3 linked regions of the Homo sapiens genome follow. The protein of the gene in region 2 interacts with the protein of the main gene of each other region in a pairwise test. Each region holds a gene or a part of one and is shown on either strand. Other genes may lie near its edges.

What was found.
Region 1: the proteins of PLEKHA5 (region 2) and CEP350 interact in a two-hybrid assay, tested with the Homo sapiens proteins (one large-scale study listed by BioGRID and IntAct).
Region 3: the proteins of PLEKHA5 (region 2) and MTCL2 interact in a two-hybrid assay, tested with the Homo sapiens proteins (one large-scale study listed by BioGRID and IntAct).

The regions. Positions count from the first base shown.
Region 1 is NC_000001.11:180,094,187-180,097,841, forward strand, and holds part of CEP350 (centrosome-associated protein 350), read left to right. Parts: coding exon 1-430; intron 431-1,336; coding exon 1,337-1,744; intron 1,745-1,851; coding exon 1,852-1,998; intron 1,999-3,655. UniProt on the Homo sapiens protein: Plays an essential role in centriole growth by stabilizing a procentriolar seed composed of at least, SASS6 and CPAP. Required for anchoring microtubules to the centrosomes and for the integrity of the microtubule network.
Region 2 is NC_000012.12:19,342,713-19,346,367, forward strand, and holds part of PLEKHA5 (pleckstrin homology domain-containing family A member 5), read left to right. Parts: intron 1-610; coding exon 611-722; intron 723-3,129; coding exon 3,130-3,176; intron 3,177-3,655.
Region 3 is NC_000020.11:36,856,956-36,860,610, forward strand, and holds part of MTCL2 (microtubule cross-linking factor 2), read right to left. Parts: intron 2,919-3,655; exon of another isoform or gene 2,619-2,918; intron 1-2,618. UniProt on the Homo sapiens protein: Microtubule-associated factor that enables integration of the centrosomal and Golgi-associated microtubules on the Golgi membrane, supporting directional migration. Preferentially acts on the perinuclear microtubules accumulated around the Golgi.

The sequences.
Region 1 (3,655 bases), on a different chromosome or scaffold from region 2:
GGAGAAGCAACAGCAGTTTACAGAAGAGGAAGACAACCTATATGCTGAAGCTTCAGAAAAGCTTTGTACACCACTTCTGGATCTTTTAACAAGAGAAAAAAACCAACTGGAAGCCCAGCTGAAGTCATCACTAAATGAGGAAAAAAAGTCAAAACAACAACTGGAAAAAATCAGCTTACTGACAGACAGTTTACTAAAAGTCTTTGTAAAGGACACAGTCAATCAACTACAACAAATCAAAAAAACCAGGGATGAGAAAATCCAGCTTAGCAATCAGGAGCTTCTTGGTGATGACCAAAAGAAAGTAACACCCCAAGACCTATCCCAAAATGTTGAGGAACAGTCGCCAAGTATTTCAGGTTGCTTCTTAAGTTCTGAATTGGAAGATGAAAAAGAAGAGATTTCCTCTCCAGATATGTGTCCCAGACCGGTGAGTATTTCGTCTAGAAAAAGTATCAGTATACCTTTTGACACTTTTAACAAGGCAACTTACCTTGCCTATATAGTACATTTTAATTCTGTGACTCCTGATAGGTTTTTTTTCCCTTGACGTGTTGTTTATTAGAGAAGGATCACTGTACTGGTTTTTAAAGGCCTTGTAGCTGTTTTTCCTGGCTGAAGTGTAATTGTCCTCTATTATGTCATGAGTAGTCAATATAGGGTTGTCACAAGCACTGGCAGGTTTTGGGGAACTAAAACATCCATTTAAACTGCTGAGTTGACAACCCCTGTACTGTCCATAGATTACATCTCCTTCCAGATTCACTGAACAAATTCGTTCCATGGAGCTTTCCAGTGGCTCACCACCCAATTCTTTTTTGCCTGTGAAATTGTTTACATATCTACTCAGTCATGGTTGGCCTGCAGAGGTTAGCAGTTGTGATGTTGATTCTGGTAAAATGAAATAGATCCACTATGACATGCACTCAGACCATCAGCTTGTTTATGTTGCCCATGGACAGTTGAGCAAAAGTAATGACTTTGAGTAACTTGAGCCAGATGGTCACCAGAGGTGAGAAATTTTATATCCCATTTCCATATCCCATAGACAGTTCTTTAGAAACAGAATAATGATAATACAAAAAGCGGGGAGAGCCCTAATCAATAAACATTTTATAAAAATTCAGTTATATGCAAGGTTTATATAAGTAGAATTGAGGGAACAGGATAACTTTTTCTTAGATTGTTTATTAGTAGCCACCATATTGTTTTTTATTCTGCTTACTTATAGAGAAATATTAGATATATAAATAATGCATTTACTCTGTCTTTTTTTAAAAAAAAATGATATGAGGTCCCTAAATGGTGCTCTGTTTGAATGGTTCCATTTCTATAGGAGAGCCCAGTATTTGGTGCCAGTGGGCAGGAAGAACTTGCTAAGAGACTTGCTGAACTTGAACTCAGCCGGGAGTTCCTGAGCGCGTTAGGAGATGATCAAGACTGGTTTGATGAAGACTTTGGTTTGAGCTCTTCTCACAAGATCCAAAAAAATAAGGCAGAAGAAACCATTGTACCTCTAATGGCAGAACCTAAAAGAGTAACCCAACAACCATGTGAAACATTATTGGCAGTCCCCCATACTGCAGAAGAAGTAGAGATTCTTGTACATAATGCAGCAGAAGAACTTTGGAAATGGAAAGAATTAGGCCACGATCTTCATAGCATCAGTATTCCTACAAAACTGCTTGGCTGTGCCAGTAAAGGTCTAGATATAGAAAGCACTAGTAAAAGGGTCTACAAACAGGTAGGTGAAATAAAAGGATAATTTTAGTTTTTAAACTTTTCTCCCATTGTCTGAAATTTGGATTCTTAGCCATTTTGTTTTGTTTTGTTTTGTTTTTCTCTATCAAGGCGGTTTTTGATTTAACAAAAGAGATTTTTGAGGAAATATTTGCTGAGGATCCCAACTTAAATCAACCTGTCTGGATGAAGCCATGTAGAATCAACTCTAGTTATTTCCGACGAGTGAAAAATCCAAATAACCTTGATGAAATCAAGGTAAACTGCAAACTATAAAGTGTCTTCTTTTTTGACTTGCTGTTCATTTACACATATCTGTAAATGTTGTAAAAGCAGGTGCTCTTCTGTATGATTAACCTTTGTGTCTTCAGGACCTGTTCCATAGTGGGTATTCAATAAAGATTTGTTGACTTACTGAATCCATGAACAGTGGAGGGATTGGAATGAGTGAAAGGGCTGAATCCTCAAGTTTGTGCAAAAAAAAAAAAAAATTCTTTTACCAGTCATTTTCTCTATATACATAATTATAATATTTAAGAAAAATTAGGAAATACCTAGGGAGATAAATTATTGCAACTAATAGGAGTTTTAGGTAAGTTTTGGGGGCTTTAGAGATAGGTATAATGTTCTAAAAGTACATATGAATACGTGTCATATATATGTCTTTTCAATATGCCAGCCCTGGACACATAGGTGTTAACTTCTTTATCTTTGACTTTGGAGGTTTCAAATTGGTAATGTGGTTTTGAACTATGTAGGATAGTAATGTGATACGTAAAAATATTTATTTTGTTATCTAAGAAACCTTTGTAAACCTTTGTCCAGAAGCTACAAGGACTATGAACTTTAAAGTCACATTGCTGGCAATCTGCTCTGCCTAGTCACATGTTTCTTTACGGCAAAGGTTATATTTCCAGAGCAGTGATTCTCAACTTTTAATGTGCATGTGAATGATCTGAGGATCTTGTTGAAATGGAGATTCTGATTTAGTAGGTCTGGAGTAGGACCTGAAATTCTGCATTTCCAACAAGCTCTCAAGTCATGCTGGTCCTGCTGGTCCTGCTGGTCCTGCTGGTCCCAGGACCACGCTGAGTAGCAAAGCTTTAAACTTGTATTTCCCAAACTTATTTGATCACAGAAAGCCTTTAAAAATATTTTATACTTATAGAACACCAACAGATATTTATGAGATGGGATGTATGCTTACCTCAGGGGTTGGCAAACTATGGCCCATAAGCCAAATCCAGGCCCCTGTATGTTTTTATAAATAAAGTTTTGTTGGACCACAGCCATACCTAGTTGTTTACATGTTACAACTACATGTAACTACAACAGTGGAATTGAATAGTTGTGACAAAGACCACATGGCCCGCAAAGCCTAAAATATTTACAGTCTGATTTTTTACAGAAAAAATTGGCCATCCCCTGGCTTAAAGTAACTAGCTTTTTAAAAACACATTGTATACTCCATTCCTTCTACCCTTTCACAATTGAAAATGCTTGAATGCTATGTGTGTCTGTGAACAGGTAGGGAGTGATGGAATTTCCGGGCACGTTGGTACTTTGAGAATCTTTCCAGGTGATTCTGATTCATAAATGTGTCCCTTCCCCTGTTAAGAACATTGTTTTTTTAACAGAACAACCATAAAAGTAACAAAATAAATTATTAATAACATTAAGTTGAGGTAAGACAAGATATATAATATATACCAACAATCAAACTACATGCATCAATATAGCATACAATAAATGCCCACTAATTTTAATATTGACATAACATTTTGTAAAGTTTTTAAGGGTGATAGTTCAAATATTGTTAGTAGTAAAATTATTATGCTTCTCATACTGAAGTGTTGATATTTTTTAATTTAACATATTTGAGTTTTGGTGCTTCAAAATAAACTATCCCAAAGTC
Region 2 (3,655 bases):
GCTGCAGTGAACTGAGAGCTTGCCACTGCACTCCAGCCTGGGCGACAGAGCAAGACTCTGTCTCAAAAAAAAATAAAAATAAAAAAATACATTTAAACTCTGTCAGTCAAAATTCATCTTGATATATTTTGTTAGTTGTACCTTTGTTGTTGTTTTTATGTTCTAGAACCTAGGAAGTTAGTACACCTTCCATTTCTCACCCATTCCCCAATGCCCTGCCACATCTCCCCCTCCCAGAAATTATTTTTTCTTTTGGGGTTTGTTTCTGCTCTGTTTTCATTCTCTCTGTTTGTATTTTCCATTTTGGGTCCCTTTTAATCAATATGCCTTCCTGGTATCATAAATAATGTAAGACAAAGCTTATTGGAAAGATTTAAAATAGTATATTTAAGTATGAAAATTAAATATTTTTCTTGCTCTGCTCAGTCTTTTATATTTGCCACTGGACTTGCAAAATTGGGAGAGTCACATCAATCATATTAAATATTCGTAACACTTAATTCACTGCAATTTGCATTTTTAGATGTAATTTATATAATTAATATATAATCATTTAACTTCAGTGAATGATTTTTTTTCTTATATATGGTCTATCCATTTTTACTGATAGACGGAATCAGCAGGAATTCAGCGTGCACAGATTCAGAAAGAACTTTGGCGAATTCAGGATGTCATGGAAGGGCTGAGTAAACATAAGCAGCAAAGAGGTACTACAGAAATAGGTAAATTAGCTTTGCATTTTATTTTGTGACTGACCACAGTATTACAGTCATGTGTCGCTTGGTGACAGATTACATTCTGAGAAATGCATTGTTAGGTGATTGTGTTGTACAATCAGAGTGTACTTAAACAAATCTAGTTGTATGGCCTACTACACACCTAGGCTATGTGGTATATAGCTTATTGCTCCCAGGTTGCAAACCTGCACAGCATGTGACTGTACTGAATACTGTAGACAGTTGTAACACAATGTTATTTGTATATCTAAACATAGAAAAGGTAATGTGTTACACTCTGACATGAGGGCAACAACTAGGCAATAGATATTTCTCAGCTCTGGCTGGGCACAGTGGCTCACACCTGTAATCCCAGCATTTTGGGAGGCTGAGGTGGGCAGATCACCTGAGGTCAGGAGTTCAAGACCAGCTTGGCCAACGTGGTGAAACCCTGTCTCTACTAAAAATACAAAAAAAGCCAGGCATGGTGGCGCATGCCTGTAGTCCCAAATACTCAGGAAGCTTAGACAGGAGAATCGCTTGAACCCGGGAGGTGGAGGTTGCAGTGAGCCAAGATCATGCCAGTGTGCTCCAGCATGGGCAGCAGAGGGAAACTGTCCCAAAAAAAAAAAAAAAAATTTTCTCAGCTGCATTATAATCTTATGGGACCACTGTCGTATATGTAGTCTGTTGCTGACCAAAACATTGGTATGTGGCACATGACTGAATGTCTAAATGGAATGACATATATAATTGAGTTTCTTTTGTTATTTTAATGCATTTTTCTGAACAGGCACTCTTAACATTGAATCAGAGCACAGGTTTATAAAGTAAAAAGTGAAAGCTCTGTCAACCATACCTAAACAAAAATAATTATTGTCTTGTGTGTATAATTATAAATATCCACAATGTTTACACTTTAGAAGTTTTATCCCCACAACAAGAACTGGGATCATCCTATATCTATTTTTCAATAATTTGCTTTTTTCTCCATAACAATGCAGTGTAAGAATCCATTGTATAAGGGAACTGTAATATATTTATCCATTTCCATATTGATGGATAATGTATGTTGTTTCCAGAGTTTTTTATGAATGCTGTCATAAGCCATGCCATAGTGAACATTATTAATACATACAACTAAACACATATGTTAGTACTTAATGGATTTTAAAAGGTGAGAAATAAGCACATGTTTTCCATTTGGATAACTGCGGCCAAAATGCCCTCCTGAAGGATTATTTCACATTATGTTAATACCAGTAATGTTTGAGAAAACCCATTTCCCCATACTCTTGTTTAAATATTTGTTGCCTTTTTAATGTAATTGCTTTCCAATTCTGAAAACAATAAGTGAATGATTAGAAACTGAAGACTTCATTTAAAATATGTGAAATCGGCCAGGCGTGGTTGCTCACGCCTGTAATCCCAGCACTTTGGGAGGCCGAGGCAGGCGGATCACTTGAGGTCAGGAGTTCAAGACCAACCTGGCCAACATGACAAAACCCCGGCTCTACTGAAAAAAAAAAAAAAAAGTACAAAAATTGGCCAGGTGTGGTGGTACGCACCTGTGGTCCCAGCTACTTGGAAGTCTGAGGCAAGAGAATCTCTTGAACCCGGGAGGCAGAGATCACGCCACTGCACTCCAACCTGGGCAACAGAGTGAAAAACAATAAAGAAATAAAAATAAGCCGGGCGCAGTGGCTCATGCCTGTAATCCGAGCACTTTGGGAGGCCAAGGCGGGCAGATCACCTGAGGTCAGGAGTTCGAGACCAGGCTGGCCAACTTGTTGAGACCCCATCTCTACTAAAAATACAAAAATTAGCCATGCATGGTGGCGTGCACCTATAGTCCCAGCTGCTCGGGAGGCTGAGGCAGAAGAATTGCTTGAACCTGGGACGCAGAGGTTGCAGTGAGCCGAGATCTTGCCACTGCACTCCAGCCTGGGCGACAGAGCGAAACTCTGTCTCAAAAAAAAATAAAAATAAAAAATAAAAATAAATAAAAATAAAAATAAATTTAAAAAAAAATACATGAAATTGTTCTTTTTTTGGCTGGACGCCATGGCTCACGCCTGTAATCCCAGCACTTTGGGAGGCCGAGGCAGGTGGATCACTTGAGGTTAGGAGTTCAAGACCAGCCTGACCAACACGGTGAAACCCCATCTCTACTAAAAATAAAAAAAATCAGTTGGGCGTGGTGGCGCACGCCTGTAGTCCCAGCTACGAGAGGCTGAGGCACAAGAATTGCTTGAACCCAGGAGGCGGAGGTTGCAGTGAGCTGAGATCACGCCACTACACTCCAGCTTGGGCAAACAGCAAGACTTCATTTCAAAAAAACAAAAGAAATTGTTCTTTTTTTATAGTATTAGAAAGATATGTTTAATATAGTTACGTTTTCTAATATTCCCAGGTATGATAGGATCAAAGCCTTTCTCAACAGTTAAGTACAAAAATGAGGTAAGTTTGGATTGTTTTTCTAATTATAAATTACTTTTAATGCTTAAGAGATGAATTAGAAGTAATTGTCTTCTCTAATCTTAATAACAAAAATATTTTTTAAATATATTGAACAGATATTGTTTTAGTCTTGAAATTTTATTGGATCAGTAATTTGGTGCTTCTAATATGTGATTTTTCTTCCCTTTTTTAATGCAAAAAAATGGAATCTCTGCTTTTTATCTGTTAGAATTTTAACGTTGTCATACTTTTTCTAATCTAAGTAATGTTTGAATACTTATCATTGTTTCTTATACTATGTAAAATTTATAGGATGATCGATAGATAAGTTGGTTGTATGTCATGCGTAGCATAAAGAAATTACAACTACAAAGAGATACTGTCAACCTAACCAAAAGAATCTATTATTTTGAATTTCGTATAAAAACCAAAGAGGTAACTTTTTTTTTTCCTCTCTTAAAAATTGGGGGGCCAGGTGC
Region 3 (3,655 bases), on a different chromosome or scaffold from region 2:
TGTGCTGTGTCCCTGCTGATGTGCATGTGGGAGTCCCCTTGGTGGGTGTCTGTAAGCCTCGGGTAGGTGTGCAAGTCTCTGCTGCTCTCTTTGTAGAAGAGGCAGGGGAGGTACCCGGGTGGTGAGCTTGTGCCTGGGCCAGCCTGGCAAGGGTAGATGTGCAGACTTCTGTGGATGCTAGTGTGTGTGTATAACGTCTGTGTGGGTTTGTGTCTCCGCCTACATGTGTACTTCTGATAAGTCTGAGTGTGTCTGCAGGATGTCAGTCTGTCTCTGGGACATATCCGGGTGTGTCTAGGGGTGTAAGATGTGTATATGAGAATGTGTTTCTGACGTGGGGGTTGCAGCAGGGTCTGAGCCTCCGTTGTGTCTGTTTGGTGATGTGTGCGTGTGATAGAATGGGAGTTGTGTGGCTGCATGGGTTTGTGCACTTCTCTGAGTGAGTATCCTCTCTAATCTGTCTGGAGGCGTGCTTCTGAAAGCATCCAACACCAGCGAGTCACTGGATGGGTCTGTGAGATGTGTGCAAGTGGCTGTGTGTCTCTGAGCTTGAGCTGTGAACAGTATATGTGCATTTGTATGTGCAAGACAGAGTATGCCCAGGGACACAGGCTCAGCCCCAAGGAGGCTGCGGCTGGGACTCAGGGTAAGGAGCAGCCAAGAGCTTTGCTGACTGTGGTGACCTCCTCTCCTCCACCCAGTGACAGACTAGAGTCCTCCCCCTGTAGCTCCTGGGAGCCAAGAAGAGAAGAGCTACATGCAGAAGCCTACTACGTGGCCACTGGGTCCAGACACCCAGCACAGGGCCTGGTACCCAGGAGCCACTGGGGAAATATGTGTTGAATGAATGAATGAATGCCTGGAGGAACGGATAAGGGATCGGCAATGACTGGGACACACTAACACTCACTGTGCACTCCATCTGCGTCCTCACATTGAAAAGGGTCCTCACGGCCCTGGGCGGGCGTGCTTGTCCCCCATGTTACAGAAGGAACAATCTCACACACATGCACACACAAACATCCTCCACTAACCCCCACCTCCCCCAGGCTCCGGGCCCCCAGCATGCCTTAGCCTAGAGCCTGGCCCATGACAGGATTCCTCTCACCAAATGTGTCTCAGCCTAGACACGCTAGTTAACAACCAAAAGCTCACTGCTCTGGTCACACTGCAGAAAGAACAGGCCCAGAGTTAGACAAACCTGGGTTGGAATCCTGGCTATGTAATTTAGAGCCTCCATTTACTGATCTGTAAAATGGCAAGTGGGGATGGATTAGGTGCTTCCTCCAGGCCCTTCTGAGCTGACATCTAGACTGGCTGCACTTCACTCACATCTAGAATCACCAAGGAGGGAAAACACACACACACACACACACACACACACACACACACACACTGGCTGCACTTCACTCACATCTAGAATCACCAAGGAGGGAAAACACACACACACACACACACACACACACTGGCTGCACTTCACTCACATCTAGAATCACCAAGGAGGGAAAACACACACACACACACACACACACACACACACACACACACACACACACACACACACACACGGCAGGGAAGGTGATCACACCTTTCCGTTCTCCCTGGGGCAGCTACTGATGTATTAACATTCTAAAACTAAGGAAATCCACCCTCCTGCATTCTCCCAGTTCCTCCAAGAATGAAGACACAGACATCCTGTCTGCCTATTGGCTATGAATAATAACAATTCCTCAGGCGACTTGGGTTCACTGCTTGCAAAATGTTTTCTTGTCTATTCACACTTCCCTGATTCCTGATGACCATCGTATGAGGTTGTCCAGGCAGGTTCCATCACCTTTACTTATTTTTTTTTGAGACAAGAGTTTCACTCTGTTGCCCAGGCTAGAGTGCAGTGGCGCCATCTCGGATCACTGCAACTTCTGCCTCCCAGGGTCAAGTGATTCTCCTGCCTCAGCCTCCTGAGTAGCTGGGATTACAGGCGCCCACGACCACGCCTGGGTAATTTTTGTATTTTTAGTAGAGATGGGGTTTCGCCACGTTGGCCAGACTGGTTTCGAACTCCTGACCTTAGGTGATCCGCCCGCCTTGGCCTCCCAAAGTGCTGGGATTACAGGCGTGAGTCACTGCGCCAGGCCCCATCACCTTTATTATACAGATGAGAAAAAAAGCAGCTCAGAGAAGCCAGGTAACTTGCCCATGGCCACACAGTAAACGGGAGAGTCAGGTTTCAAAGTCAGGTCTTCAGACTCCAACTCTCAGATTCCTCCATCCACACCCAGTGGGTTCCTACATGTTCTGGCCACATGGTACGTGCTTAATGGTTAGTGGTGATGAAAGGCTGGAAGACCTCAGATCACCGGGTCTTTGAAGGTCTCAGGTGACGTGTCTGCTCGGCAGCTAAAGCTGCATCTTAGAATCCTGGCACCTCAGTAGTTAATAACCTTCAGACTTCCTTGGCTAGAAGGGACCCAAGGTCAGGCAGCTCAACTGCAGCCACCACATCAATCTCCCTCTGAACCCTTCTCAAGCAATCATTCCACAAACCCTCTATCTTTATCCAAGCATGCAAGGTCATCCCGCCTCTCTCTGAATAATTAAAGTGACAGTGAGCTCACTACCTTCTCTGTAGAAGCTCCTTCTATCTTCTCACTGGGAGAGAGTTGCCCGATTTATGCTTTCCTCACTTGGACCCCAGAGCAGACCATACCAGACTGGAGATCACAGTCCTTCGCAGTTGACAGTTCCCAGTGACCCCTACAAGGGGGAGGTAAGCCTGAGCAGGGCCACCCACCAGACCTGGTGGGACCTCCTTCAACTCTGCTCCTGCAGGGGACATACTGGGGATTTGGAGTCCTTTCCCTTGTACTCAGTTTCTGCATCTTAGAGGCAAAGTAGTCCAGAAAGGCAGAAAACACATCAAGAGTCTAACACATGCTTACTCCAAGCCCTGGCAGCCTAGCGACCCTGCTCTGGGACCCACTCTGGCCACAGTTTTCCCATCTGTGGAATAAACAACACAACACCTCCAGTAATAACCCCTCTATTTATGGTCCACATTTAGTCTCTGGATTTTGACCCTGCCTCTGTGAGGCTGGCGGCTGGGATAAACAGATATACAGAGAAGTTAAGGGACTAACCCAAATGTACACAGTGAGAAGTGGCATGGGCTGGCCTTGCTCTCCTCTCTTACCCACACTCCTTCCCCTCTCTGGCCTTAGCGCTGTTCTTGAACTCAACGAGCATTCCAATTTCCCTTAGCCTGAAATCTTCTTACTCCAGACCCTCACTCAGTTGGCTCCACGGCATCCTGCAGCCCTCAGCCTCCCTGTGCACCCCAGCCCCCACCTTCGTGTGCTCCTGGCAAACTGTCCCCTTTACCCTCATTATGATCTGTGTTGTGATTTCTTGTATGACTATTGTTTAATTCTGGTCTCCCCAAAAGCTCTATGAAAACAGACACCTCATCCTCCCTTGTCCACAGCTGTATCCCAGATCTGCCCTAGCACACGGCAGGTTCTAAATAAACAGCTGCCGAATGAACCAATGAGGGGCCAGGAGAAAGAGCCCAGCCTGCCTTGGGTGATGAAGAGGATCTATTCTGCCCTCACAGAATCCACAAGAGAACAGGCTGGGTGCACATGGAAACATGTCCCGT